7 linked regions of the Homo sapiens genome follow. The protein of the gene in region 7 purifies or fractionates together with the protein of the main gene of each other region. This does not show direct contact. Each region holds a gene or a part of one and is shown on either strand. Other genes may lie near its edges. The genes, in order: DHX9, H3-7, XPC, HTATIP2, ERC1, EIF2AK2 and MACROD1.

What was found.
Region 1: the proteins of MACROD1 (region 7) and DHX9 purify together in Homo sapiens (affinity purification with mass spectrometry, with the first as the bait; one study listed by BioGRID). This does not show direct contact.
Region 2: the proteins of MACROD1 (region 7) and H3-7 purify together in Homo sapiens (affinity purification with mass spectrometry; 2 studies listed by BioGRID and IntAct, with this or other methods). This does not show direct contact.
Region 3: the proteins of MACROD1 (region 7) and XPC purify together in Homo sapiens (affinity purification with mass spectrometry; 2 studies listed by BioGRID and IntAct, with this or other methods). This does not show direct contact.
Region 4: the proteins of MACROD1 (region 7) and HTATIP2 purify together in Homo sapiens (affinity purification with mass spectrometry; one large-scale study listed by BioGRID and IntAct). This does not show direct contact.
Region 5: the proteins of MACROD1 (region 7) and ERC1 purify together in Homo sapiens (affinity purification with mass spectrometry, with the first as the bait; one study listed by BioGRID). This does not show direct contact.
Region 6: the proteins of MACROD1 (region 7) and EIF2AK2 purify together in Homo sapiens (affinity purification with mass spectrometry, with the first as the bait; one study listed by BioGRID). This does not show direct contact.

The regions. Positions count from the first base shown.
Region 1 is NC_000001.11:182,859,544-182,863,879, forward strand, and holds part of DHX9 (ATP-dependent RNA helicase A), read left to right. Parts: intron 1-449; coding exon 450-641; intron 642-4,336. UniProt on the Homo sapiens protein: Multifunctional ATP-dependent nucleic acid helicase that unwinds DNA and RNA in a 3' to 5' direction and that plays important roles in many processes, such as DNA replication, transcriptional activation, post-transcriptional RNA regulation, mRNA translation and RNA-mediated gene silencing.
Region 2 is NC_000001.11:143,904,941-143,908,138, reverse strand, and holds H3-7 (histone H3-7), read left to right. Parts: upstream 1-2,161; 5' UTR 2,162-2,172; coding exon 2,173-2,583; 3' UTR 2,584-2,629; downstream 2,630-3,198. UniProt on the Homo sapiens protein: Core component of nucleosome. Nucleosomes wrap and compact DNA into chromatin, limiting DNA accessibility to the cellular machineries which require DNA as a template.
Region 3 is NC_000003.12:14,154,149-14,158,484, reverse strand, and holds part of XPC (DNA repair protein complementing XP-C cells), read left to right. Parts: coding exon 1-474; intron 475-1,989; coding exon 1,990-2,150; intron 2,151-4,336. UniProt on the Homo sapiens protein: Involved in global genome nucleotide excision repair (GG-NER) by acting as damage sensing and DNA-binding factor component of the XPC complex. Has only a low DNA repair activity by itself which is stimulated by RAD23B and RAD23A.
Region 4 is NC_000011.10:20,366,429-20,370,764, forward strand, and holds part of HTATIP2 (protein HTATIP2), read left to right. Parts: intron 1-745; coding exon 746-853; coding exon of another isoform or gene 854-952; exon of another isoform or gene 953-1,227; intron 1,228-4,336. UniProt on the Homo sapiens protein: Represses translation by preventing reactivation of elongation factor eEF1A. May also inhibit nuclear import by competing with nuclear import substrates for binding to a subset of nuclear transport receptors.
Region 5 is NC_000012.12:1,021,734-1,026,069, forward strand, and holds part of ERC1 (ELKS/Rab6-interacting/CAST family member 1), read left to right. Parts: intron 1-4,336. UniProt on the Homo sapiens protein: Regulatory subunit of the IKK complex. Probably recruits IkappaBalpha/NFKBIA to the complex. May be involved in the organization of the cytomatrix at the nerve terminals active zone (CAZ) which regulates neurotransmitter release.
Region 6 is NC_000002.12:37,098,479-37,102,450, reverse strand, and holds the end of EIF2AK2 (interferon-induced, double-stranded RNA-activated protein kinase), read left to right. Parts: 3' UTR 1-3,241; downstream 3,242-3,972.
Region 7 is NC_000011.10:64,158,995-64,163,330, reverse strand, and holds part of MACROD1 (ADP-ribose glycohydrolase MACROD1), read left to right. Parts: intron 1-4,336. UniProt on the Homo sapiens protein: Removes ADP-ribose from aspartate and glutamate residues in proteins bearing a single ADP-ribose moiety. Inactive towards proteins bearing poly-ADP-ribose.

The sequences.
Region 1 (4,336 bases), on a different chromosome or scaffold from region 7:
GAAAAAAACATTTTCATCACTAAGCCAATGGAAATGAGTAAGTTTTTATAGAGATGGAAGTTTGGTTTTTTTGTTTGTTTTTTTCTTGAGACAAAGTCTCGCTTAGTTGCCCAGGCTGGAGTACAGTGGCTCAGTCTCGGCTCACTGCACCCTCCGCCTCCTTGGTTCAAGCAATTCTCCTGCCTCAGCGTCCCAAGTAGGTGGGATTACAGGCACACCCCACCACACCTGGCTAATTTTTGTATTTTTAGTAGAGATGGGGTTTCACCATGTTGGCTAGGCTGGTCTCGAACTCCTCACCTCATGATCCTCAGCCTCCCAAAGTGCTGGGATTACAGGCGTGAGCCACCGCGCCCAGTCTATAGAGATGGAAGTTTTTTAAAGGATCAAGACAGTTGCTTCTAATGTGTTGGTAGACATTTGACTGAAGTGTGACTTTTCTAATGCAGATCTTGCAGGAGAGAGAGTTACTGCCTGTGAAGAAATTTGAAAGTGAGATTCTGGAAGCAATCAGCCAAAATTCAGTTGTCATTATTAGAGGGGCTACTGGATGTGGGAAAACCACACAGGTTCCCCAGTTCATTCTAGATGACTTTATCCAGAATGACCGAGCAGCAGAGTGTAACATCGTAGTAACTCAGGTAAGTGGTAAACCAACCATGAAATACCTAGAGAGCAGACTATTTCTGATTCTTTCTTTGATTAACTAATTTTTGTAATTATTTAAGATTGAGAGAGCATTGTGCCCTTGAAATTAAATTTAAAAAAAGAAAACATAAAAACAACGTAGTCTTTTTCTAATCTCTAGTATGCTACACTAATAAGCTAAACTGGACTATGTGAGGGATTCTTTTTATCTGGGCTAAAGAGTCTCTGGGCCTAGAATCAGACTGTCGAGATTAAGAATTCTTTGTCCTAAAGTTCATCCAAATCTTGGTCATCTCTATCTAACCACCTTGATATTGAGTAAAAACCAGTCAGACAGGTAATGGTTAACTTTCACTGTATGCCATGTTCTATTCTAAGCAGTAGCTTTTTAGAAAAAACTCAATCGAAGTTCATAATGACCCTAAGATGTAAGTACTATTTCACATAGTATTTCTCTTTCAGTAAATTAAGGCATAAAGAAGGTAAAATGCCCAAGGTTAACACAGAAAGTGGTAGAACTAGGATTAAAAAACCAAGCAATCCGCCTTTTAGGATTCTTCCTTTTAACTAACACTGTATTACCTTACCAGCAATGAGCAGCGCCTGCATGTTTGTCCCAGTACTTAGGGAAGAACTGATTAGCTCTTCTAAGTGCTCTCAGGTTAAACAGTTCCGTTGGCTCTACCCTGTACTTCTGGCACTTTGTGGGAGAGCATTGCAAATAGCCAGGTACTACCTCTGAGGTAGGCTTACATCTTGACTTAGAAATTATTTTTTCCCCGATGGGTTAATGTTGCTTAACCTGGGAAACATAATCAGTTTTCAGAGGAGAGTTACAAACTTTGAAATGTGTGCATGTTCATTTACATTTGCATGTATAAAGCATATATCTGAAACTTTTTAACATTTCTGAAATTGAGATACATTTTTATAATTAGTATATTTGTATAATTGTATAATTAGTATAATTGTATATTTTATGTGAGAATTGGGTTTTCTCCTGAAAAAAAAAATTGCTGTGAAGGAATCATGTTGCATCCTAAGGCTGATGATACCTTAGGCTTGAAAAAATATGATAAATTGACATTTTTCTGGGAAAGGATTCCTAGCTTGTTCACAAAATTTTCTTTGATTTTCCGACTCACCCCTAAAACTGGCTATGGATTTTTTGACTTACAGTGAAGGCTGCAGCCCCAGATGTCATCATACTCCAATAAAATATTCTTACTCTTAATTCTTACCTCATCTTTCAGGAAGAACATTGTTCAAGAGTGCAATTTTACAGAAGAGAAGCCTTGAGCTCAGCTCTGCTCTGCTCTTCTCTTCCCTTCCTCTCCCTTCTACCACTATCCATTTCTAATCTCAAAAGCAGTTGTGGCATATAGCAGAAAGAAGCAGAATTTAACAAGCGAGCTGTGAAGACAGGAGTCTCAAGTTGTCTGCATGTCATAAATAGAGTAAAAATTCCTGCCCAAGTGAGAAGTGCTTTGTCTCACTGTCTTTTAAAATGTTCAGTGGCATGGAAATGTATTAGCAAACCTGTGTCTTCTGATTTGGGGTGAATTACTTATAACTCATATTGCATCTACATTCTGTGGCTTGCATGTTTTTGTCCTAGCGTTTGTCCCAAAATCAGTCTCATACCTCTTACCTGTAACAAGTCTTCAAAATTTTAAAAACCTATATTGTGTCCTAGTATGTACTTAGTTTGAAAGTCTCAACTAAACATTTATAGTTCAGCCATGAAGGTACAGTAAGTCTAAGATTTAAACACACTCAAATTCATCAGCACCTACCTGTAATATGAAAAGTAGGCCTGAGCATGCTGATTGGTTATTACAGAATACAGTTTTTTATTATTTTTGTTTTTAATATACTGTACTTCTTTTGGCACAGTCTGAGATAGCATTAGTTATTTTTGTAGTACTACCACTGTTGAATCATTTTTCCATTATCTTGCACTTGTAGCCATCTATAGGAAACCACATGAAGTCATCAGTTAAGTATTAGAAAGTTTTTTTATGTTCCTGATTTTAAGTGTATTATCTCAGTTCACAGAGCACAAGTTTAGAGTTATGGACTGGCGTATAACAGAATGAGTAGCTCAAACCATGACATCAGCCTTAGTGTAAATTCTCAACCAAACTCACTGAATTTTATCCTTCGGTCTATCCATACTCAAGCCACTTAAAACCTGTGGGCTGTATGCAGAAAATTTTAAGTAGGAAATAGTTGTCTTCTACCTTTAAAGTTATTTGAAAGAGATGAATTGTAATTGTAGGATGTAAATCAAGCATATTAATGTAATTTTATCAATCCTGTACTTACCCCATAGTACCATCATTTCAGGATAAGAACGGTTCTTTGTATAAAATAAATTCAGAACCTTAGAAGATAGAGATAGTGGAGCCTGATACATTTTGTAGTATCTAGTGCATTAGGAATCTTGACATTTTGTGGCAGCTTAGTCATGTTACTGTGTATATAACGCTTAGATGTGAAAAAGCAAAGTTGGGACCTTTTAGAACTTCAGTTTTGAAAGATGGAAGAAATTGCTGTAGTTCTGAGTAAATGGCAAGAGGTGTACATTAAAGGTATGGATTCTAGAATACTACAAAATAACAGTTTGGGAGAGATCTCCAACCTCTTATGGTATAGAAAGTGTTAGTTACCCAGTACCTGGTACATAGTAATTTCAGTGACTGCTTAGTACATATTATTAGAGCTACTTCAGTTAAAGCAGACAGAAGTGTGGGGAAGAGGTTAGCACTTGAAATTACCTACTACTATGGCTGGACTCCAGGCAAGAGTAGTAAAATTCTAAAGAGAAAATGAGATAAGCAGATGTATGCAATGAAAATTAAAAGCACATATCTGGAGGACAGTTGGAACTATTCTTCCAGCTTTCTGTTGGAAAAATATTATCCTTTGCTTTCATCACTGGTACTTTCTAACTAGTCTCACTTTTGTCGGTTATTGTTTTATTTTTAACATATTTAGTAATCCAAGTGTAACATAGTTAAAATAATAAAAAGTAAAATAATTGGAGAAAGGATTATATTGGGAGTAAAGGAAATTTGAAGTCTTAAGTCATTTATGTGTCCTTAGGCAAAATAACCTTTTTGAACTTGTGTTTTTAATCTACTAGAATGCAGCAGGAAAAGATTTTACTAGTATTCTGAAGCATAAATAAGGCATATTTGCTGCCATGGTTTTTACTGTTATATTACACAAATACGATTTCTAGATGTCTCTGTGTTCTTGGTTCTTATTTATATTTGAGTAATATAGAATATGTATATATTCCTTATAATAGAAGTGGCCGTGCAGGTATAGATAGAACTTGTTTTACCTATGAGCCTTGCCTTGTATTTATTCACTGTGGCAGAATATATAAAATAATTATTGAAGCACAGAAGATCAAGGGAAAAGTGATAGATTATTTAAGGGATAAGTAGAGCATCTTCATACGCTGTACAGTGGCATGCAGTCTGAGAAAGGTTTAAATAGTCATTGATACGCTCACGTTAGGCATTGTTTTCCCACACAAAATGCCTGTCCTGTGAATATTTCTAGTGAGCTAAGAATTAAGAATTAGAAGATTTTTTTTTTTTACTGCTTTTGGTGTACTACAAGAGTAATACATACACCTTGGGGAAATTTTAAGAATAGAATAATTTTTTAAAAA
Region 2 (3,198 bases), on a different chromosome or scaffold from region 7:
AAGATGACTTTTAAGGCAACTATACATCTGATTGTTTTATTCTGAGAAATGATACCTATAGCCATTAAAGTCTGATTGAATGCCATTTTCTTATTTAAATGAACACATCCTACATTATGGTCAAGACTGCATACATCATAGAGAAAGTATATTGCAAAGAAAAGTGATGCTTGGGTGGGCTGCTTTGGGCTATCATCCAGATTCCATGGGGTAGTTTTCCCTTCTAATGGGAATAGTTGGGTGTAGATGTTTGAGAAATACTAGATGATGTGATTGCATGATGGGAAAACGCTTTTGTGCTTTAAACTGTGTTGGCTGGGTGTGTGGGGCTCATGCCTGTAACCCAAGCACTTTGGGAGGCCGAGGAGGGTGGATCACCTGAGGTCAGGAGTTCGAGACCAGCCTGACCAATATGGTGAAAACCTGTCTCTACTAAAAATACAAATAAATAAATAAATTAGCTGGGGGTGGTGGCTTGCGCCTATAGTCCCAGCTGCTCAGGAGGCTGAGACAGGAGAATTGCTTGAACACAGGAGGCGGAGGCTGCAGTGAGCAGAGATCCTACCACTGCACTCCAGCCTGGGTGACAGAGTGAGACTCCATCTCAAATGAAAAAAAAAAAAGGTATCCTCTAAGCCTAATGAAATAGAAAGTTTCATCATTACCGTTTCATTCTTTTGCTTTAGAATATTACACAGGCTTTGTTACTTACCCAGGACAAGCCATAATTTCTCTGAGACTCAGTTTTCTTATCTGTAAAGTGAGAAGAGTAAGATCTATTTCACAGAGTAGGGATTAAATGATAAAGTGTATGTAGAAGAACTTTAAACACTGAGTAGTGCCTGCTGTCTGTAAGGCATTATTACAAAACTACCACAGAGAGGGATAACATTTGTTCACATCAGTTACACTTTTGTACATTTTAGATCTCTCGAGAGGAGGATGCTTCTGCCCATGAGAGACTCTTGAAGATATTAATTAAGCTCACAGATTTCTACTTTGTGTTTAGTGTTCAGGAAGTCCCCTTGAAATCACTTTTACTTTACTTTGACTTCAGTAGGAAGATAGTTCATAATGACACCATCAAAGTAAGTTTTAAGCGTTTCGGGCCTGCTTTTCTCAGGTTTGAGTTTTTATAGTTTGTAATGATTTTTTTAGTAAAATAAGCATATGATTAAAAGTTTTATATTAACTACTACAACTTTTAAGTATCAGTTGCTTCTACATAACCACTATATTTACTGTTCTGAACAATACATACTTCAAAGCACATGAAATTGAAAAAGCAAAGCATCTTTACTCTCTTCATAGAGAACAGAAAAAAATATTAAACTTTTAAGCATTATAAAATACTTTATTGAATAAAATGTTAGCAAGTCAGCAATTGATGAATAATTTGCTTTGAAACTTTAACTTGTAATCTGGCTAATTAGCACTAATTTACAAACTATTCTACATTGTAAAGGAGAAATGAATTTCTGGTGTTGTCCTTCTTTGATTTAGAAGCTTAACATCTGCAGGACCTAATTGGCCATTGATGTGAGGGTGAGGAAGAAGGAACCACATCGCAGGGAGAAAAGACTAAAGGAAGGCAGAGGCTCTAATATCAGGTCAATATAGGTCAGCACACTACCCACATGAAATGGCTTTGGCTGGGTTCCAAGGTCAAGTAAATAAGATCAATTTTTTCATTCCTTCAATTACATATTTTTTTGCTAAGCTTCGGTCATTCATGGTATACAATGCATCTAACTTGCTGAGCAAAATGCTAGACATGAAATAAATGTTAGCTATGGTAGAAGAGCTTCAGTAACAGGTAACCTGAAACAGGCTGATAGCTCATAGAAGGGCATGCTTGAATTCGGGGAAAAAAAAAAATCTCTGTTAAAATGGGATGCAAAACACTTTATACATTGCTTTTACAAAAGTTAGACTAATTTAAAGGAAAGTCTTCAAAAGCAATCCGTGATCGATAAAATTACAGAAAAAAATCAGGAAAGGGGGAAATAATAAGGGAAGAAAGATTAGCAGAACAATCTTCCGCCCCAGTAAAGAGGACTGAATTTTAACCAATGAGATCACAAGTTTGAAAATTTCCTTTTCAGGCCCAATCAAGAGGAGGCTATGTCTATAAATACGACTGCCTAGACCCTCTCGTATCAATGAGACAGCATGGCCCGTACTAAGCAGACTGCCCGCAAGTCGACCGGCGGCAAGGCCCCGAGGAAGCAGCTGGCTACCAAAGCGGCCCGCAAGAGCGCGCCGGCCACGGGCGGGGTGAAGAAGCCGCACCGCTACCGGCCCGGCACCGTGGCTCTGCGGGAGATCCGGCGCTATCAGAAGTCTACGGAGCTGCTGATCCGCAAGCTGCCCTTCCAGCGGCTGGTACGCGAGATCGCGCAGGAGTTTAAGACGGACCTGCGCTTCCAGAGCTCGGCCGTGATGGCGCTGCAGGAGGCCAGAGAGGCCTACCTGGTGGGGCTGTTCGAAGACACGAACCTGTGCGCCATCCATGCCAAGCGCGTGACCATCATGCCCAAGGACATCCAGTTGGTCAGCCGCATCCGCGGGGAGCGGGCCTAAGGTATATTTTTAAGTGGTCGATCTAAAGGCTCTTTTCAGAGCCACTGCCGTTTTCATCAAGAGCAGCTGTACCGGCTCTCCATCTGATGTGCGTCTGCCTTGCGCAGCGGTCAGGGGCCAGGGGCACTCGTGGTGGGTGACGTTACAGAACCCAAAGCCCAGCCGTGAGTTGGCCGGCAGTAGAGAAAGCCGCAGAGGCATGGTCCTTGTGGTTCCGGCCGAGCCTTTTCACGCTGGTTTAAGGCTAGAGGTCCGGCTCCCAATTCTGTGGGTAAAGTTTTGCATGGGGGCAAGAGACTATGGGGAGTTTCTAGATGTGGAAGATCCTGAGTGTAAGGGTGGGGCGAGTCCCTTAAAAATTATAAACTCGTTTCCTGGTTTATTTAGGAACTATAAGCTTAATTAAAGCTCAGCATCTTCCTCATTGCATACTACAGGCGGTGTCCAAGCCAGAATAGTAATTTAAGCGGGCGGGAGTAAATATCTGGCGATTTTTAAAAATGTGTGGGTGAGGTAGTATTTCAAGGAAGAGAAAAAAATTTCCACAAAGTATAGAATAAAAATGCAAAAACGAGGCAAGAGAGTTAACTTGTCTAGCTGGCGTTAAGATTTCTT
Region 3 (4,336 bases), on a different chromosome or scaffold from region 7:
CAGAGGAAAGCCCCCGCTCCTCAGAGGACAAAGGCTGGGTCCAAGAGTGCCTCCAGGACCCATCGTGGGAGCCATCGTAAGGACCCAAGCTTGCCAGCGGCATCCTCAAGCTCTTCAAGCAGTAAAAGAGGCAAGAAAATGTGCAGCGATGGTGAGAAGGCAGAAAAAAGAAGCATAGCTGGTATAGACCAGTGGCTAGAGGTGTTCTGTGAGCAGGAGGAAAAGTGGGTATGTGTAGACTGTGTGCACGGTGTGGTGGGCCAGCCTCTGACCTGTTACAAGTACGCCACCAAGCCCATGACCTATGTGGTGGGCATTGACAGTGACGGCTGGGTCCGAGATGTCACACAGAGGTACGACCCAGTCTGGATGACAGTGACCCGCAAGTGCCGGGTTGATGCTGAGTGGTGGGCCGAGACCTTGAGACCATACCAGAGCCCATTTATGGACAGGGAGAAGAAAGAAGACTTGGAGGTAAGGCCTTGGCTGCCAGGGGCTCCAAGACACAGTCAGGTTATTAAAATTATTCCTGTTTTTGAGCACCTTATATATGCCCAGCACTATGTTGGGTGTTTTTAATGGGTTGTCTCATTTAATTGTCACAGCCATATAAAGCTGGGGCAGTTGCTGCCTTAATTTTAGTGTAAAAAGTTGTGGAGTTGAAAGATGAACTGCCGCGGTGCTTGAGCCCAGGTCTGTGTGGCTTTGGAGCCTGTATACTTTTAGTTATTGCCCAGTTATAAATTTGGAGCTTTAAAATAATTTATGCAAGTAATATAACTCAGACTGAGTGAAAGAAGGAATAACCCATGGATATATTCTCCCCCCTCCCCCATCATGCGTGAATGTAAAGATGTACGTGCAAACACCCCTCATACATAGAACACTCACCTCCTGGGAAAGAGGGGTCTCGGAATGAGACAGACATGATACTGTCTCGGAATGAGACAGTATCTTCAGTCTATTGAGAAGGCAGACCGGGAGGCAGAGACTTCTAGAACATGACAGCTATGTCACTTGATCCTAGAACCAGCACTGACACCAGGAATAGTGCCCGAGCCGCCTGTGTGTATGGCAGTGGTGGTGGTGGGTGGAGCTTGCCATTTCTACACAGGAACATGCCCAGATTTGTCGCAGGTTTATTTCCAATCCCTCAGGATAGGTAAATTGCAGATTTATTAATCATTTCCTATAGGAGTGCAATGCATCCCATATTGAGTGTTTGCTCCAGGGGTGCATTTTACTTAGTAATGCTAAGTAAAATGGGTGCATTACTAAGTTCATTTTACTTAGTAATGACAGGTTAAGTGGAAAGTATGCAGATGGTATCGTAACTAACCTACCTAAAGCGCAGTGGAAGCTGAACGTGCAGCGTCCTCTCCCACTCTCAGCAACTCCACATTGCCAGTCCTTTCTAGTCTGTTGGGGTTTTTGAAGAGATGCCAAGGGCAAGCCTTAGAGAGCCTAGTGAACAGGGTGACTTACAGCAGTGAATTGCCTACTGAGAAATGAGCAATCTCAGAGAAGGGCAGAGAGAACACTGTCATAGTGGACGAAGAGAAAAGTCGCAGGGTGAGAACCGCTGCTCTCAGTTTCCTGTGAGAGCAGACAGGTAAGCTCACGCTCTAGAAGAGGATTGTCCCTTTGAAATAAGACCTTCTTACTGAAGAGCACTGTGTGTTTTTCTTCCTTGCAGACCTTTAACACATCTGCTGGGGCTGGGTTAGGTGTCTAAGCATTCAAATAGGTTAGACAACTTTTTGAAGTTGCCACAAGCCACAGATTTATTTGATTCTTTAAAGCTTTTGATTGATCTGTAACTGACTTACTGGCCGGAGGTACAGATGCGATGTTACAAAACCATTAGTGTTCATGAAACCTTGGCTCCACCATCTGTTGTCAGAACAAGTTAGTCTAAGGATCATCTCCCTCAAACTTCATTTCCTCTTCTAAATAACATGCTCAACCTTGTCTGTCTGGCCTTTGCAGTTTCAGGCTAAACACATGGACCAGCCTTTGCCCACTGCCATTGGCTTATATAAGAACCACCCTCTGTATGCCCTGAAGCGGCATCTCCTGAAATATGAGGCCATCTATCCCGAGACAGCTGCCATCCTTGGGTATTGTCGTGGAGAAGCGGTCTACTCCAGGTGCGTGAGGCAGCCTGGTTGGCCTCAGGGGCTTCCTGATGGCATGGGATTAGCAGCCTTCTTCCTAGGCAAGGGTTGCTGATGGGAGCTCATCTGACTGGACAGCATTCTCGGGCTGAGCCAGTGTGCGTGTGCTGTGTGTGTGTGATGTGTAGGAGAGAAGAAAATTTGAAAATTAAAACAGGGATTAAAAGAATGGCAGGGGAAAAACAGTTACAGGGAAAATAAAATACAAAGTAGGAAAAATAAAATTTAAGATAGGGCAGTATAAAACACACCCCACAAATATAAGTCAAAAACATACAAAAGGAAGGAATAAAGGATTTGATTATGAAAGTTAAAAGTGAGTGGATTTTTCATGGGTACAGAGCCCTGTTTGGGATGAAAAAGTTCTGGGAATGGATGGTGGTAATGGTTGTACAATGTTGTGAATGGACCTAATGCCACTGAACTGCACACTTAAAAATGGTTAAAATGGGCCGGGCGCGGTGGCTCACGCTTGTAATCCCAGCACTTTGGGAGGCCGAGGCGGGCGGATCCCGAGGTCAGGAGATCGAGACCATCCTGGCTAACACGATGAAACCCTGTCTCTACTAAAAATACAAAAAATTAGCCGGGTGTGGTGGCGGGTGCCTGTAGTCCCAGCGACTCGGAGAGGCTGAGGCAGGAGAATGGCGTGAACCCGGGAGGCGGAGCTTGCAGTGAGCCAAGATCGCGCCACTGCACTCCAGCCTGGGTGACAGAACGAGACTCCGTATCAAAAACAAAAAAATGGTTAAAATGGTGTATTTTATGTGACTGTGTTTTATACCACAGTAAAAAGAAATAGCTAAAAAAAGAGTGGAATAAGAGCAAAAAATGAATAAAATATATATAAAATTAAAATTGAAAAATGTTAATACAATTTTGAGGTAAGAAAAAAATAGAAACAGGAATTTTGAGAAATGGGAATAAAAAGCAAGTAAAATAAGTGATTTTAAAAGACATGGGATGTACAAGACCAAGAAATAGGAGATGTTCTTAATAAATGAGAAAACAGGAAGGTACAGAAAAGAGAAAAAGGAAGCGTAGGGAAACCCACATGAGAGTGGGCGATTTGAGTCCTCCCACTGGGGATGACTTCCTGCTTGTCAGCCCCCCATGGGAGTCATGCTGGACCCTCTCTTCAGGGCTCTGCCCTGTCTTGGAGCTTTCTGTTTGATGTCGGTGGGGGGCATGATGCCCTGGGCAGGGGCAGGGCTTTGCTGTTCTGGGACTTTAGCACCCAGCAGTCAAAGGCAGCAGGGGGCCTGGGCTGCCCTGATAGAGGCTTCCTCTTATGGGTATGTACGGGTAGTCGGGAGAAAGCCTGTTGGGAAGAGAATGCAGGCGTCGTCCAGAGGCACCATGTCAGTGACAGAAGGAAGCATTAGAGGTGCATATTTATTGATTTATTTTTTATTGTGGTAAAATATTTATAAATTTTTTATAATAATTTATAATATTTATAAATTATATATATTTATATATATAAATAAATTTATAATATTTATAAATATTATAAAATTTACCATCTCAACCATTTTTTAAGTGTACAGCCTACAGCATTAAGCACATTCACACTGTCATCCAGCCATCACCACCATCCATCTCCAGATTTCTTTTCCTCTTCCCAAACCAAAACTCCGTCCCCATCAAAAACTCCGAATTCCCCTTCTCCAGCCCTGCACCCACCATTCTCCTTTCTGTCTCTGAGTGTGCCTACTATAGGGACCCATGTAGGTGGAATCATGCGGTATTTATAGTCACATCGTGACTGGCTTATTTCACTTAGCATAATGCCTCAGGGTTCATCCATATTGTAGCATGGGTCAGAATTTCCTTCCTTTTTAGGCTGATACTCCATTGTGTGGGTGGACCACATTTTGTTTGTGCCTTCATCCATCAATGGGCACTTGGCTCGTCTCCACCTTTTGGCTGTTGTGAATTATGCTGCTGTGAACATGGGTGTGCAGATAGCTCTTCAAGATTCTGCTTTCAGTTTTTGTTTGTTTGTTTGTTTGTTTGCATATACCCAGTACAATTACTAGGCCAGATGGTAATTCCCATCATTTTTTTAGGAACCACCTTACCATTTCCACCGCAGCTGCACCCATTTTACATTTTCACCGACAGTCCACAAGGTCTCCACTTTCTCCACATCCTCA
Region 4 (4,336 bases), about 44 Mb from region 7:
TCTTTTCAGAGTTGACAGTAAGGATGGAAACCAACATTTTATCGGAGTTCTTGGATGATAGGAATTTATCATGCTTTCTTTTTTAAGTTATACAGCAAACTGATAAGGTTAGATGGAGGTTCGTAAACTTCTGTGTGCATGAGAATTAAGGTGGGTGCTTGTTAAAAGTGCAGATTCTGATTCAGAACTATTGGTGTGGGATGTAGGAATATGCCTTTTTATTAAGCACTCCCTGACTAATTATAATGCAAATGGTTCATGGATTGGACTGAAGGAAAGATTATCACCCCCATTTTACAGCTGAAAAAAAAAAGCTGTAGTGTATGATGAATAATTTGCCCGTAACTACATGCCTAGTGAGTGTAGCAAGCCCAAGATTTGCAGCTAGGTCTTCTTTAAGATGCCAAACGCCATCTCTTGCCCTCACATCATACCTCAGTGGTCTCCTTCCTGGTTAGCTACACACAGGTCTTTTATTTTTCCAGAGAGAGATTATAATCGAACCTGACTTCAGAAATCTGGATCACCCCTAGTCCAGTTATATAGACTGTGGACATATGTGTGTGTTGTTGATTTTCAACTGAGGTTCATTGCTTTTTGGTTGGAGAAAAGGAATTTGTAAAATTTGATGTTAAGTGGACAGGCCTGTCAGTAATGTTCTGTAACTTAGTCTTTAAATCTAGAGGGGGTTTTTGGTCTGTTGTTTAAATAACATGAAACTACATACAACTGTGTCCTTGCCTAGAATCAAGAAGTGGTGGACTTTGAAAAGTTGGATGACTACGCCTCTGCCTTTCAAGGTCATGATGTTGGATTCTGTTGCCTGGGTACCACCAGAGGGAAAGCTGGGGCGGTAAGGAAGGCATATGCTCTTTTCCCTTTTTGCTGGCCAGTAATATCAAGGATTCTTTTCTTGCTCACTCTTTTTCTTTGTGCCTGTTGCAATGCTTAAATGTGAATAAGCCTTTATTGTTTAAGATTCTATATGCTGCACTAACCTTTGGTATCCTTTTAATAGTACTGATAAGTTCGTCTTTCAAAGTAATCCTTGAGTTCAGGCCCCAGTGCTGGAGACGTCGTAAATATTTACATGATTTTGCCTATTGTGATTATCGCTATCACTACATCCCCTGACTAAGGGAAACCATGATGTCTGAGTAAAACTAATTGGTTTATGCTGTTAACAATCAGCTGTTTTTCCCCTTAATAAATGTTTGAAATTTGAAATGTTCTGTCTCACTTGAGTGATTTGCTTCAACTTATTTTCATGTCAAGCTTTAAACTTCTGGAATAGAACATCAGAACACAGGCACGATTCAACCAGCCTCCAGCGATGACTCAGCCTTCAGCGATGATTCAACCCCACTAATGATTCAGTCTTTACTGACGCAAAAGTCTTTTAACGCACATTTTATTTTCTTTTTAATGGTGTTCTAAATTGAGTCAGCTCCTGTACAGAAGTCATAGTTTACTACATAGTTAGAAATCAGAGTTTACTACCTGGATTCTGGGCAAATGTTAGTGCGGGTACATCTTATTTAATTTATACTTTGACTATAGTTTATTCCTCTGGCAGAATTTACATGCTGGAGCTGAAAAAACCTGCATGTTCTGCATATGTATCCCAGAACTTAAAGTAAAATTTAAAAATATTTAATAATAAATACATAAATAAAACAGAAGAAAGTGAAAAAAGTAAATAAATAAATAAAGCCGAGGCACAGTGGTTCATGCCTGTAATCCCAGGAAAACAAGAAAAAAGAAAAAATATATATATATATGACTATGACTCTGCCATGGGAATTCTCCTTAGGTTTATAAGCCAGACCCCTTCACCTGAAACATTAAGGGAGCATATAGTGAAGAACTATTCATTTATACCAACCGAGTAGTTAGATTCAGATGTATTTCTTTGGGCCTCCTTGTGATGCAAAGAGTAATTCTATGTATGCTTTCAATCAAGATGTATTTCCATACCTTCTGCAGTTCTGCCTATCTGTCCTGGAACACAGCTGGGATTGGAGCTCTGTGATGGGAACTATGGATTATAGAGAAGTTTGACTTTCCCAGGAATTGGCACATTATCTCTCCTAGAAAGGGTCATGTTCCTGCTTAACAGTGGGTGCAGTCTTTTCTGTCCCAGGCACAGTCACAAGTGGTGTGCCCTCCAAAAGCATTGAAAAACTTTTGTTCCAGGACACTGCAGGTTTGTCTCAAGTGCCAACCTGGTTTTGGTGGTGAGTCAGCAAAACAAAATGCTGCATTAGGCATAGAAGGGTTGATTTTCATGACATAAGGCAAATCTCATTATAGGGTGTGCCAGGGAAAAGTCTAAACTGCTTTTTGTGTTCAAAATGGGTAATGCAATTTTAATCAGAGGAATTGTGTGTCTTTACTATCCAGAATTTTCTTTTTTAATGGGGTTGGTTCTTCACGTCTCAGGCTATTCAATACCTTTTGTTCTCCTTTAAAATCAATTTGGAAAGATAAAAGTAATTAACTAGTAAGCAAGAATAGACTAATGAGCCTAGACTATTCACCTAGCTTAGAAATGAATTAGGACTTAAATGATTTAAGAGGTTAGTGGTGGAAAGCAAGCTGACACTTATACCAGAAAAGTGTTTTGTTTGTTTTGGGGGCTTTAAAAAAAAAACTAATTTGGGCTGTGTACAATATAAAGTTGGGAGGTTGATAACTTTAGCCAATATGAAAGAGGTGACAGTTCATATGTGGCTAAGTAACGATAGTGTTTTAAGTGGAGGTTGTGGATTTCCAAGCTTATCCCAGCTGGTGTTCTGGGTCAGCAGCCCTCTCTGTAGAAAAAAGTTCGTTGGGTGGTTTATCATATGAGTACTACAAAGCTAGTGGCAAAACTAGTACGCTTCACTAGGGATTTTGTAACTGGAACACCTCATATATTGCCTTAGCAGTCTGTGTTTCCAGCAGAGAAACTTCAAGAAATTCAGCGTTTTTGTCTCAGTATTGAGATCCTCTGTGTAGGTGGCTTATTTCCATGTGATGTTCAGTGTATTAGTTTGCTAGGGCTGCCATAACCCAAGTAGCTTGAACAACAGAAACGTATTGTCTCACAGTTCTGGAGGCTAGAAGTCTGAGATCCAGGTCTCAGCAGGCTGGTCAGTGCTCTGAGGCTGAGCCCTTGAGTTTCCAGGCCCTCTCCTTGTCTTGTAGATGGCAGCCTTCTCTTTGTGTCTCTTTACGTGGTATTTTCCCTGAATACCTGTGCCTATATCCACATTTCCCCTTTTTATAAGACCACTAGTCATACTGGATTAGGGACCACCCTATTTAGTATGATCTCAACTAATTACATCTGCAATGAACTTATTTCCAAATAAGGTCATATTCTGAGGTAATGGGGGTTAGGAGTTCAACATACGCATTTTGGGGGGATGTAATCCAACCCACAAAATTCAGTCTACTCAGGTTTCTATTGACACTGGTTCTAGGAAAAGGTCTATTAGCTTTCCTCAGCTGTTTGGAAGACTATTTCCTTTAACAGTAGCTGGGCAGATGCTAATCTTCCTTTTCATATTCACAGAACACAGTTGTTCAGTCAATGCACTGGCTCCCTGACTTGGCCCTGATCCAGATCTACTGCATCAGCATCTCTGAATTTGGAAGCTTGGAATCTGTATTTTTAGCAGGCTCCTTGGGAGATCCTGATGCAGTCAACCCTGTCCTTCTTGTTGAACCTACTTTCAAGAGGCATTGGGGTGTATTAATTCCCCTCACTTGCTGGTTTTCTGGGTACTGTGGTCCTGGATAACCTTTGCCTTGCTTTAGTGAGTAACTTGTTTGCTAGTGAAGATTGAAATAGCCTTTGAAAACCAGATCTGTATTGTCCTGGAGTGAAGCACAAAAACTTAGAGATGCCAGTGAGAATAGTTCATTTCCCCTTATTTGTATCAAAAGAGGGATTTGATTAGTGAATTCAAGGTGGTTCGATGTGGTTTCACCTTTTCATTTGTTTCCTCACCTGGTCGTAGTAGGCTCCAGAAGTCCAGGTTCTTGTTTTCTGTTGAGTGGATGATGTCATTAATGTGATTAGTGTGGCCACTGTGACATTTATTAGGCATCTCATGGCCCATCTCATTAGAACCTTATGGCTTCTGATTCTAATGATCTGCTCTTCTAATTCAAAGGTTTGCAATACAGCCTGCCACCTGTTTTTGTACACCCTGTGAGCTAAGAATGTCTTTATGTATATATTTTTTTTTTGAGACGGAGTCTCGCTCAGTTGCCCAGGCTAGAGTGCAGTGGCGCAATCTCGGCTCACTGCAAGCTCCGCCTCCTGGGTTCACGCCATTCTCCTGCC
Region 5 (4,336 bases), on a different chromosome or scaffold from region 7:
CCAATGTTCCTTAGCTGTGATGCAAACCCACTGCCTGTGTAGCATCCATCTGAGCCCCTCCATGTCACCTTATGGGACTTGGGGATAACAGGGAGACAGTGCAAACATGTTCATGCTTGCTGCGCTGTGAGTAATAAAAGTTCTTTGTGTTTGACCCAGGAGACTCATGTATTCTGTCAGTATCCATGAAATGGTCATAGGCTAATGTATTAACCTGTAAGTAGGGTTAAATAAAATCCTAGTTCCTTCACAGTTCTCAACATTACTTATGTTTACTTTAGTGTGATACACTGTGAAAATAAGCTATACATTTTATTTTCTGTTCTATTTATCTGTTTATTTTAGAGATCCTATCTCTATTCTCCTATAGATAGGATCTTGCTATGTTGTCCAGGCTGGTCTTGAATTCCTGGACTCAAGCAATCCTACTTCCTTGGTCTCCCAAAGTGCTGGGATTACAGGCACAGGCTATTGTGCCTGGCCAAGAAGTACATTTTATATTGTGATCCAGTATGCACATGTGCATGCATATGCACACCTGAAACATTGCAGAAAACAATACTGTTATCTCTTGTTGCATTACAATTACTTCAGAACTTACTGGATTTGAAAAACAAACATCTCAGATTTCATGAAGAGTGTGTTGGGTGATTCTGGCTCAGGGTATGTAGTGATTTTATTTCATTTAAAACAAACAAGAAAACAAGCTTGGTTGCAGCTTATCAAGCTGATTTCACAACCTACTATTGGGTCATAATTCTAAGTTTGAAAAACACTGACTGGGGACTGTTACCGTTTGGCTGTGTCCCCAGCAATCTCATCTTGAATTGTAGTTCCCATAATCCCTACATGTTGTGGAGGGACCTGGTGGTAGCTGAATCGTGGGGTCGGTTACCCCATGCTGTTCTGATAGTGAGTGCTCACGAGATCGATTTTATTTTTTCTTTTTTGAGACAGAGTCTTGCTCTGTCACCCAGGCTTGAGTGCAGTGGCATAATCTTGGGTCACTGAAACCTTTGCCTCCTGGGTTCAAGTGAGCACGTCTGGGTAATATTTGTATTTTTAGTAGAGATAGGGTTTCACCATGTTGGCCAGGCTGGTCTTGAACTCCTGACCTCAAGTGATCCACTGACCTTGGCCTCCCAAAGTGTTGGGATTACAGGCGTTAGCCACCGCGCCCAGCCTAGATCTGATGGTTTTGTAAGGGGCTCTTCCCCCTTTGCTTGGCACTTCTTCCTGCCGCCATGTGAAGAAGGATGTGTTTGCTTCCCCTTCTGCCATGATTGTAAGCTTCTTGAGGCCTCCCCAGCCCTGCAGAACTGTGAGTCAATTAAACCTCTTTCTTTTATAAATTACCCAGTCTTATGGGTAGTTCTACATAGAGCTTGAGAATGGACTAATACAGGACTCTGAGGCTAGAGGCAGGCAGTCAGGTTAGAAAGTTGTTTTAATTCAGGTAGGATAGGATGGCATAAACCAAGGTAATAATTGTGGGAATGGAGGAAGAGGATCAATTTAAGAGGTACCTAGAAATCAAAGCAACAGGAATTGTATTGTTTTGATAATATGTGTGTATATGGAGTATGAAGATTTTGGGAGGACTCTCAGGCTCTGGCTTGAGCAGCTGATGTTATTCATGTGAATAGATGTTGTCCACTACCATGTTCTTTTTTTGATTTTTTTTTTTTCCCCTGCAGCAGCAGGTTTGGTTTTGGAATGGGGAGACCTTGATACGGAGTTCAGTTTGGGGGCATGGTGTATTTGAGGTGCATGTGAGGAGTATAAGTGAAGATGTCCAGAAGTGGGATACATAGTTTTGATTCTCAAAGGAGAAGTAAAAAAGTACTGGAGAAGTAGTGAATTTGGAGTCTTTGTTGTACATATGTTATTTTAAGCTGGTGGAGGCAGGGAGAAAGGATTTCTTAAGGATGATATTGTAGTGTGAGAATAACATAGGGATGAAGATCAGAAACATTTAAGGGAGGAACGAACAAAGAAGGAGGAGGGTTAGAAGAAAAGAGCATATGATATAAAGAAACCAAGAGAGGAGAGTGTCAAAAAATTGGGAGTGCTTAAGAAACAAGATGTATTATAGACAGAAGTTAAAAAGGCATTAGAGAGGAAAAGTGTTCATTAACTAAGGTTTCTCTGGAGAAGCCAGAGGGAATGGGGACTAAAGTACCCTGTGGAAGGATTAGCTGTAGCCCACTTCCATCAGAATAGAGGAAGTTAAGGATGGTTGTTGCTGTCAATGAACATGTGGAGAGAGAAAGTTGAGATAGTTCCTGTTTGATTTCTTTGTTTCTCTCTTATGTAGGAGATGAGATACGTAAATTTGATAGGGCTGCTGTAAGAAAGTACCATCAGCTGGGCACGGTGGCTCACGCCTGTAATCCCAGTACTTTGGGAGGCTGAGGCAGGCGAATCCGTTGGGCCCAGGAGTTCGAGACCAGACTGGGCAACATGGTGAAACCCCACCTCTACCAAAAATACAAAAATTAGCTGGGTGTGCTGATGCTCGCCTGTAGTCTCAGCTACTCGGGTGGCTGAGGTGGGAGAAGTGCTTGAGCCTGGGAGGTTGAGGCCACGGTGAGCTGTGATTGTACCACTGCACTCCAGCCTGGGTGACAGAGGAGACCTTGTCTCAACAAACAAAAACACAAAACATCTCCCGCCTCTCCACCCCGCTCCCCCCACAGGTTTGAAACCACCTGCCTGTTATTTCAAACCACCTGTGTGTTCACATTTTTGAGGACTTTTAACCTGTTTGACCAGAATAGATACTGTCTTTAGAATCTCATTTTTGACAATATGATTTACTTGGTACTGTTTTCAATGAAGAAACACTTATAAGAATCAATTTACATAACAATGGATTTTGGGAAAATATTGTTTAATATGCTGAAGCCTGTTGTTACTTGACCTAAGCCAATGCTTTGAAATGATGCTAGGAAATCAGAGAGATCTAGTTTAGATCTATATTGTCTTTGAAAGAAGTCTATAAAGTTGATAGCTATAGTTTAGTGGGTTCTGCATCCACAGCTCAAACCACCTGTGGACCAAAAATATTTGGGAAAGAATCTTAAAGTCACCTTGAAAAAAAAAGTGGAAAAAAAAAAAAAAAGAAAATACTTGGGAAAAAATAATACAACATGGAAAAATAATACAAATAAAAAACACAATAAGTATAACAACGATTTACATAGCATCTACATTTTATTAAGTATTATAAGTAATTTAGAGATGATTTAAAGTATGCTGGAGGATATCCATAGGTTTTATGCAATTACTGTGTCATTTTGAATCAGGGACTTGAGCATCCTGGGATTTTTGTTGTCTGGGGCAGTCTTGGATATCTGGATACGTTCTACTGGAGCCAGTCCCCAGCAGATACCAAGGGACAACTGCCTGTGGTTTTAAAATTTGTTTTAGTTATACTTGTAGAGTATGAACATGTTTTCTTTTTTGAAAAAAAAATTCAGGTGCTTTATGGTAGTTTGAGTGTAAAGCTTTCTAAGTTGAGCTAAAGCCTCCACAAACATTTTTCCCCTTTATAACACAAGTTTCCTTCCCTCTAATTATCGCTGTTTCAAAATTGGCATTTCCCGTGTAGGAATTCTTTACATACTCTGTTTACAGATCATTATACTTATGTTCACTGTATTTTTCACCTAGCTTTTGGTTTATCTTTTAATTTTATTTACAGCATTTTTTGGTATAATACTTTGTCATTTTGACATAATTAAGTGTGTTGGTTGTTTTTCTTTATGGTTTTTGCTTCTGGTTTTTTATTTAAGAAGCCTTTTCCTAACTCAAGTTCACAAGGATATTCTTCAAAATTTTCTTCTAGTACTTTTAATGGCTTAAAAAATTTATATCTTTAATGTATATGGAATTTATTTTGGTGTACTATGTGAAGACGAGTATACGTTATGTTTCTCAAAGAGCAACAAGTATTTAAACTTCATTTATTGAGTGATTTTTCATTTCCTCACTGTATTAGTCTGTTCTCATGTTGCTAATACAGACATACCCGAGACTAGGTAATTTAAAAAGGAAAGTTTTTTTTTTTTTTTTTTTTTGAGACGGAGTCTCGCTCTTGTCACCCAGGCTGGAGTGCAGTGGCGCGATCTCGGCTCACTGCAATGTCTGCCGCCTGGGTTCAAGCTTCTTATGCCTCAGCCTCCTGAGTGGCTGGGATTACAGGCACCTGCCACCATGCTTGGTTAATTTTTGTACTTTTAGTGAGATTGGGTTTTGCCGTGTTGGTCAGGCTGGTCTCGAACTCTTGATGTCAGGTGATCCACCCGCCTTGGTCTCCCAAATTGCTGGAATT
Region 6 (3,972 bases), on a different chromosome or scaffold from region 7:
GCATGTTAACTTTTCATTATGGAATATTGAATAATTTCAATATTATTCATACATTTCTTTATGTTCAAACATACACAAAAATAGAATAATGAAACTCTACCCATCACCCAGCTGCAACAAATATCAATACTTTACCGTTCTTAATACATCTAACCCCTTACTTTTTGTTTGTTTCTTTTGGTGAAGTATTTAATTGTAATTTTTTTTTTAAGAGACAGGATCTCACTCTGTCACCCAGGCCAGAGTACAGTGGTACGATCACAGCTCCTTGTAACCTCGAACTCCTAGGCTCAAGTGATCCTCCTGCCTCAGCCGCTTGAATAGCTGGGACTACATGCATACACCAACACACCCAACTAATTTTTAAATTTTTTGTAGAAATATGGTCTTGCTGTGTTTCCCAGGCTGGTCTCAAACTCCTGGCCTTGAGAGATTCTCCTGCCTTGGTCTTCCAAACTGCTGGGATTACAATATCCGGCCCTACTGGAATATTTTAAAGTAAATCTCAGGTGTTACATCATTGCACTTGTAAGTACTTTAAAATGTATCTCTAGCAGATAAATCTTTTTAACAAAACCACAGCATCATTGTCACACTCAAAAAATTGACAAGATTTCCTTAATTATCATATAATAGTCTGTATTGTTTCTATCTCAAAAATACAGTTTTCTTGGTTGTTGAAATCTAGATCCAACATTGCATTTGGTTGATGTGTCTCCTTTACTCTGTAAAATTTACCCCTGCGTTTTAGTTCTTTTCGGCTTTTATTTGTCCTGTGGAATTTCCTCCACTCAGGATTTGACTGAGAGTATCCCCAGAGTGTCCAGTTAGACCTAGAAGCTGGATTTGATCCTGGTTCATTTATTTTCCCCCAAGAATACTCCATAGGTGATGCTATACACTTTCTCTTACATCATTTCAGGAGGAACATGATGTCTGATTGTTCCACTTTCAGTGATTTTAATATTGATCAATGAGTTCTGGTGGTACCAACTACTACAAAGTTTCTCATCAATCTTTCACCTGATGGTTTTAGCAGCTATTGATAATTGTTGCCTGGATCCATTATTTCATTTCAGGGGTTGTAAAATAGTGATTTTCTGGTTCTATCAAACCTCTTGCATTTATCATCTATGATTCTTCTTTAAGGAACTTTCTCTAAATCTGAATGGGAAAGATGCGATAAATATTTATCAAATTTTAGAGTGAGTTAGTGCCCTAGCAACCTCCACAGTTGACAAATGAGTATTTCTTTAAAGCAAGGTATGGCCCAACCAATACTTTGAAACTAGCATGTTTAGAATAGAGCAGGAGGAAACTATATTTGAAAGGTCAGAAGTGGAAAGACTAAGAGGGCCTGAACAATAAGAGGACAGAACCAAGAGGAGTTGGCAACTAATTGGATGTGGGGATTAAGGAAAGGTAAGCATCAAAGATTACCTCCAAGTTTGTTAGAAGGTTAGTAGCAGGATTCTGATGCCATTCAAGTAAATACAAGTCTCAGTCAGATGAACCCCAAGAGCCACATGTATTTGAGGGGTACTTTGTCTCACACTTTTACCTGTTACATGGTTTTCAGTAATTTAGAATTTAAGCCAGTAGTGGGGCGACTGTACATCTATCGACATGGTGAGGTAGAGCATGTTTGGGAGGAAAGACGTTGAATCCCATTTGGTGACAGTGAGCTTGAGGTGCTGCCAGAACACTGCACTGAAGATAGGAGGAGACTGTAGGAAATACAAGATAGGAAAGGTCTCCACTGAAATGTTAACTCTTTCTCTCTAAACGGCCATCCAGGCCTCAATGTCTGCAGTTTCTGATCTGTGATTATGACTTATCCAAATCTTACATTTCTTAAAAATAGTCATAGATGAAGGGAATCACAGTTGATAGTTATATGGTGACATTATTGGCTTAAATTCTAAATAACTAGAAACTGTATAATAGGCAAAACTGTGAGGCAAATAAAATGCTTCTCAAATCTGTGTGGCTCTTATGGGGTTAATTTGATTTGGACCTGTATTAATTTCTTATGGCTGCTATAACTAACAAATTACCACAAACTTGGTGGTTTAAAACAACACACATTTATTCTCTTTCTGTTCTGGAGGCCAGAAGTCTAAAATGAGATTCACTGGGCTGCAGTTCACTGGGCAAGGCCATGCTCCTCTGGAGGCTTCCATGATGCATCCCATATTCAGTGTTTCCCGAGTAAGCCCCACCCATGCAGGTCTGCAGTTTTACCTCAACAGGCTTTTGCACTCAGTGGCTCTCTCCTGTGGTTTCTATCTGAAATTCTCTTCATTTTTTTTTTAATAACTGCTTTATTGAGATATAATTCACATGCCATACAATTCACCTATACAGTATACAATTCAGTAGTGTTTACTATATTCAGAGTTGTGCAACTATCATTTTTCTCACCCCCAAAAGAAACCCTATGCCCGTTAGTATTCACTCTGTTTTCTCACAACTCTAGGTAACCACTAATCTACTCTCCATCTCTATAGATTTGCCCATGCTAGACATTTCATATAAATGGAATCATACATGTGGTCTTTTTCACTGAGTATATTTTCAAGGTGCATCCCAGCTGTGGCATGAATCAGCATCTCATTCCTTTTTATTGCCAAATAATATTCTATCATATGGATATGTCGCATTTTATGTATCCATTCATCAGCTGATGGACATTTGGGTTGTTTGTACTTTTTGGCTACCATGAATAATGCTACTATGAACTTTTGTGTACAAATCTTATGTGGACTTGTTTTCATTTCTCTTGGATGTATATTCCTAGGAGAATGGCTGGATTATACAGTAACTCTTTCCTCATAACTTTGCATATCAAAATTATATCCATCTTTCAGAACCCAAATTCAGTGTTATTTCCAAAGTGTTCCAACATCTCCCACTCAAAATGAATCTTCTCCCTAGTACTCCCATTGTTTAGTACCTAATTGTTCTTACCAGTTTGTCTTAGAGCTCAGTCATTCCTACACAGCACTTTTCTTCATTATACTGCTAATTTCATTACACTGTAAGAGTGGGGACAAGCTGTTCTTCTTGTATACCAGAAAGTAGTGAGTGCACTGCTGTGAAGAAAGCAGGAACTCAAAAGTTAAGAATTTTGAATGAGCCTATAAAATGTGTCTAATAAATAATAATGTTCATTTTCAAATCTCAACAATTAAATGTTTAACAAATAACACTTGAAATAAATGTTTATTAGAAAAACCAATTTGGTATGTTAAAGTATTTATTTTGAATTTCAGAAACTACAGAATTCTGGATTTTTAATTAAGAAAATTAGACATTTTAGAATTTCTAGATAGGACTTTGAAAATAAACATGGCACAATATACACAAAAGTAAATGACAACATGACATTAAATTTTACATTGTTTTGCAGTTTCAAATTTCGTATTAATGTTCTACAACAAATTTTAAAATTCTTTTCAGTGTTTTGCTTCCCTTGGTGTTCATTATTGCCTATTTATAAAGTCATAAAAGGCCTAAAAATAACTTGTTACTCATATTGAAAGTCTGATTTTTTTTTTATTCCCTTAAGATGGAGGTCTCTCACTATGTTGCCCAGGCTGGTTTCAAACTTCTGGGCTCAAAGGATTCCCCATCTCAGCCCCCTGAGTAGCTGGGACCAAAGGCATGCACCACTGCACCCGGCTGAAAGCCTGTATTTTTATCTTTCGATGGACAACAGAGGGATATCTCCCACTCTCTAAGCCGGTCTAGTTCTAGTACTAGGCCTGTAAATGTAGACCACAATCCTGGTGAAGTCATGGGTTCCATCAGTGTTATCCTGGCATTCTCAGCATAATTGTCATGAACATATTTAAAATATTTTAGGCCACTGAGCAGGTGTGGGTTGTCCTCATAGTAACAGGAGAAAGGGAAGCCAGTTCCTGTCTAACTCCATTCCATCTGAAATTATCCATTTGGCTTTGGGATTTG
Region 7 (4,336 bases):
GTGTTTTTATTTTCTTAAAAAAATTTTTTTTTGAGACAGTTTCACTCTTTTTGTCCAGGCTGGAGTGCAGTGGTGTGATGTCACTGCAACCTCTGCTTCCCGGGTTCAAGTGATTCTCCTGCCTCAGCCTCCTGAGTAGCTGGGATTACAGGCACCCACCACTATACCCGGCTAATTTTTGTTTGTTTGTTTGTTTGTTTGTTTGTTTTTTAGATGAAGACTTATTCTGTTGCCCAGGCTGGAGTGCAGTGGTGTGATCTCAGCTCACTGCAACCTCCGCCTCCGGGGTTCAAGTGATTTTCCTGCCTCAGCCTCCCCAGTAGCTGGGATTACAGACGCGTGCCATCACGCCCGGCTAATTTTTTTGTGTTTTTGGTGGAGATAGGATTTCATCGTGTTAGTCAGGATGGTCTTGATCTCCGGACCTCGTGATCTGCCCGTCTCGGCCTCCCGGAGTGCTGGGGTTACAGGCGTGAGTCACTGGGCCTGGCCAATTTTCTTAAATTTTTTTTTTTTGAGATGGAGTCTTGCTCTGTCACCCAGGCTGGAGTGCAGTGGCGCGACCTTGGTTCATTGCAAGCTCCTCCTCCTGGGTTCATGCCATTCTCCTGCCTCAGCCTCCCGAATAGCTGGGATTACAGGTGCCCGTCACCATGCCCAGATAATTTTTTGTATTCTTTAGTAGAGACAGGGTTTCACTGTGTTAGCCAGGATGGTCTCAATCTCCTGACCTCGTGATCTGCCCGCCTCAGCCTCCCAAAGTGCTGGGATTACAGTCGTGAGCCACTGTGGCCGGCCAAAATTTTTAAAATTAATTTAAATTTTTTTCGAGACAGGGTCTCGCTCAGTTGCTCAGGCTGAAGTGCAGTGGTGTAATCATAGCTAGCTGCACCCTTAAACTGCTGGGCTCAGCGATCCTCCTGCCTCAGCCACCTGAGTAGTTGGAAGTACAGGCGCGCATCACCATGTGCAACTAATTTTTTTTTTTCTTTTGAGACAAGGTCTGTTGCCCACGCTGGAGTGCAGTTGTGAGATCTCAGCTCACTGCTTCCTCAACCTCCTGGGCTCAAGCGATCCTCCCACCTCAGTCTCCCAAGTAGCTGGAACTACAGGCATACGCCACCACGCCTAGCTAATTTTTTGTATTTTTTTGTAGAGACAGAATTTTGACATGTTGCCCAGGCTGTTCTCAAACTCCTAAGCTCAAGCGATCTACCCACCTCGGCCTCCCAAAGTGCTGAGGTTACAGGTGTGAGCCATGGGCTGCTAATGTTTTAAAACCTTTATTGTAGAGACTGGGTTTCACCATGTTGCCCAGGCTGGTCTCAAACTCCTAAGCTCAAGCGATCTACCCACCTCGGCCTCCCAAAGTGCTGAGGTTACAGGTGTGAGCCATGGGCTGCTAATGTTTTAAAACCTTTATTGTAGAGACTGGGTTTCACCATGTTGCCCAGGCTGGTCTCAAACTCCTAAGCTCAAGCGATCTACCCACCTCGGCCTCCCAAAGTGCTGAGGTTACAGGTGTGAGCCATGGGCTGCTAATGTTTTAAAACCTTTATTGTAGAGACTGGGTTTCACCATGTTACCCAGGCTGGTCTCAAACTCCTGGCCTCAAGCAATCCGCCCACCGCAGCCTCCCAAAATGCTGGCATGACAGGTGTGAGCCACTGTGCCTGGCCAAGTGTATTTTTTAAGCCATCACATTATGGGAGATCTGGGGGGCTGCCCCAGCTGGACTCTGCCTTTGATTAGGGTCTGAGCCGTGGCCCTTGAAGACTGCTACACTTTTCATCGTTACATTCAAATCACACTTTCAGCCAAGTTACATTTGACAGTCAAGTGCTGCAAGTGTAGAGATCTTCAGTGCACAGTGTATGCAACTGTGCAGTCACTACTTGGGTCAAAAGGTAGAGCATTGCCATCACGCCAGAAGTCGCCTCTTTTCACTTGGTACTGTCTGGAGCTAATCACTCTTGTGATATCTGTTCATTTTGTCTCTTCTTGAAGTCTGGCCCCTTTTACTCAATATCCGGCCAGTTCGTCCTTGTTATTGGATGTGGCAATGGTTCCCTCTTTTTCATTGCTGTATAGTGTTCCAGCATATGAACGTACCACAGCTTGTTTCCCACTCTTTTGTTGTTTTGTTTGGTTTTGTTTTTTGAGATGGAGTCTTGCTCTGTCGCCCAGGCTGGAGTGTAGTGGCACGATCCTGGCTAACTGCAACCTCCGTTTCTTGGGTTCAAGCGATTCTCCTGCCTCAGCCTCCAGAGTTGCTGGGATTACAGGCACCCGCCACCACGCCTGGCTAATTTTTGTATTTTAGTAGAGACGGAGTTTCACCATGTTGGCCAGGCTGGTCTCAAAATACTGACCTCAGGTGGTCTACCTGTCTCGGCCTCCCAAAGTGCTGGGATTACAAGTGTGAGCCACCATCCCGGCCCCCACTCTTTTGTTGATAGGCATTTGGGTTTCTTGTGAATAAAACTGTGCTGAACATTTTTTTTTTTTTTTTTTTTAGATATGGTCTCATTCTGTTGCCCAGGCTGGAGTGCAGTGGTGCAATCACAGCTCACTGCAGCCTCCAACTTCTGGGCTCAAACCATCCTCCCACCTCAGCCTCCTGAGTAGCTGGGACTATAGGCATGTGCCACCATGCCTGGCTAATGTTTTTAAAAATGTCTTGCAGAGACAGGGTCTCATTATGTTGCCCCAGGCTGGTCTCGAACTCCTGGGCTCAAGTGATCCTCCCACCTCCGCCTGCAAAAGTGCTAGCGCTGAGATTACAGATGTGTGCCACTGTGCCTGGCTTCCTGAACATTCTCTCCATGTCTCTGATGGACATGTGCTCTCATTTCAGGGCTGTACCTAGATAGGCCTCCAAATACTTGTCTGCCTGAGAGGATCCTCTCTCAAAGCCTGGCACACAGTAACCAAACTCACAAGAGACTGACGTATAGGTCAGAAGGCATATGTGCAGTTTGTGGTGGGGAAATATAATGGCAGTGGGTCTGAAAACTCAGGTGTGCCTGAGCAGAGCCTCCTCTCCCTATGGGAAAGCCTCATGGAAGCCAAATTGTAATCTTAGGATTGCTCAGAGCATGCGATCTTATCCAGGGCTGGTTGAGTGATTTTGGAAGCCTTGCCCTGGGCAAGGCAGGTAAGCTTCCCTGTTTGAGAAGGGTCAGCCCACCCACAAGGATCCCCTTCCCCGGGCGTTTGCTCGGTATTTCCATCTATATGCAGTGCTGAGTGCCTGCTCTGGACCCATGGAAGGATGCCCAGCCCATGGCCCAGCTTGTCCTCCAAGCTGACGGCCAAATTCAGCTTCCCCCTGGACACTCCTTTTCTTTACCTCCAGGCTGACGCTCATTTCCATGGGCCCATTCTCCCTCTAGGTATGTACATACCTTCAGGCTGGATCTTCCTGGCTGGGAGACTTTCAGTCTTTTGGGGACACTTCAGCAGTGTCTGATTTTACTAGCCAGGGGTTACTTTCTCTAATTTATTTTTATTTATTTGTTTTTTTAATTTTTTTTGAGACCGAGTTTCGCTCTTGTTGCCCAGGCTGGAGTGCAGTGGCGCAATCTCGGCTCACCACAACCTCTGCCTCCTGGGTTCAGGCAATTATCCTGCCTCAGCCTCCCGCGTAGCTGGGATTACAGGCATGCGCCCCCATGCCCGGCTAATTTTGTATTTTTAGTAGAGACGGGGTTTCTCCATGTTGGTCAGGCTGGTCTCAAACTCCTGACCTCAGGTGATCCGCCCGCCTTGGCCTCCTGAAGTGCTGGGATTACAGGAGTGAGCCACCGTGCCTGGCCTGTTTGTTTATTTATTTGAGACAGGGTCTCACTTTGTTGCCCAGGCTGGAGTGCAGTGGTGGTATCTTGGCTCACTGCAGCCTCCGCCACCCAGACTCCAGCAATCCTCCCACCTCAGCCTCTTGAGTAGCTGGGATTACAGGTGTGTGCCACTACACCGGCTAATTTTTGTATTTTTTTTTTTTTTTTTTTCTGAGACGGAGACTCGCTCTGTCACCCAGGCTGGAGTGCACTGGTGCAATCTCGGCTCGCTGCAACCTCCGCCTTCTGGGTTCAAGCGATTCTCTTGCCTCAGCCTCCTGAGTAGCTGGGATTACAGGCCTGTGCCACCACACCGGCTAATTTTTGTATTTTTAGTAGAGACAGGGTTTCACCATGTTGTTCAGGCTGGTCTCGAACTCCTGACCTCGTGATCCACCTGCCTCAGCCTCCCAAAGTGCTGGAATTACAGGTGTGAGCCCCTGCACCCGGCCTCATTTTTCTATTTTTTGCAGAGACGGGGTTTTGCAATGTTGGCC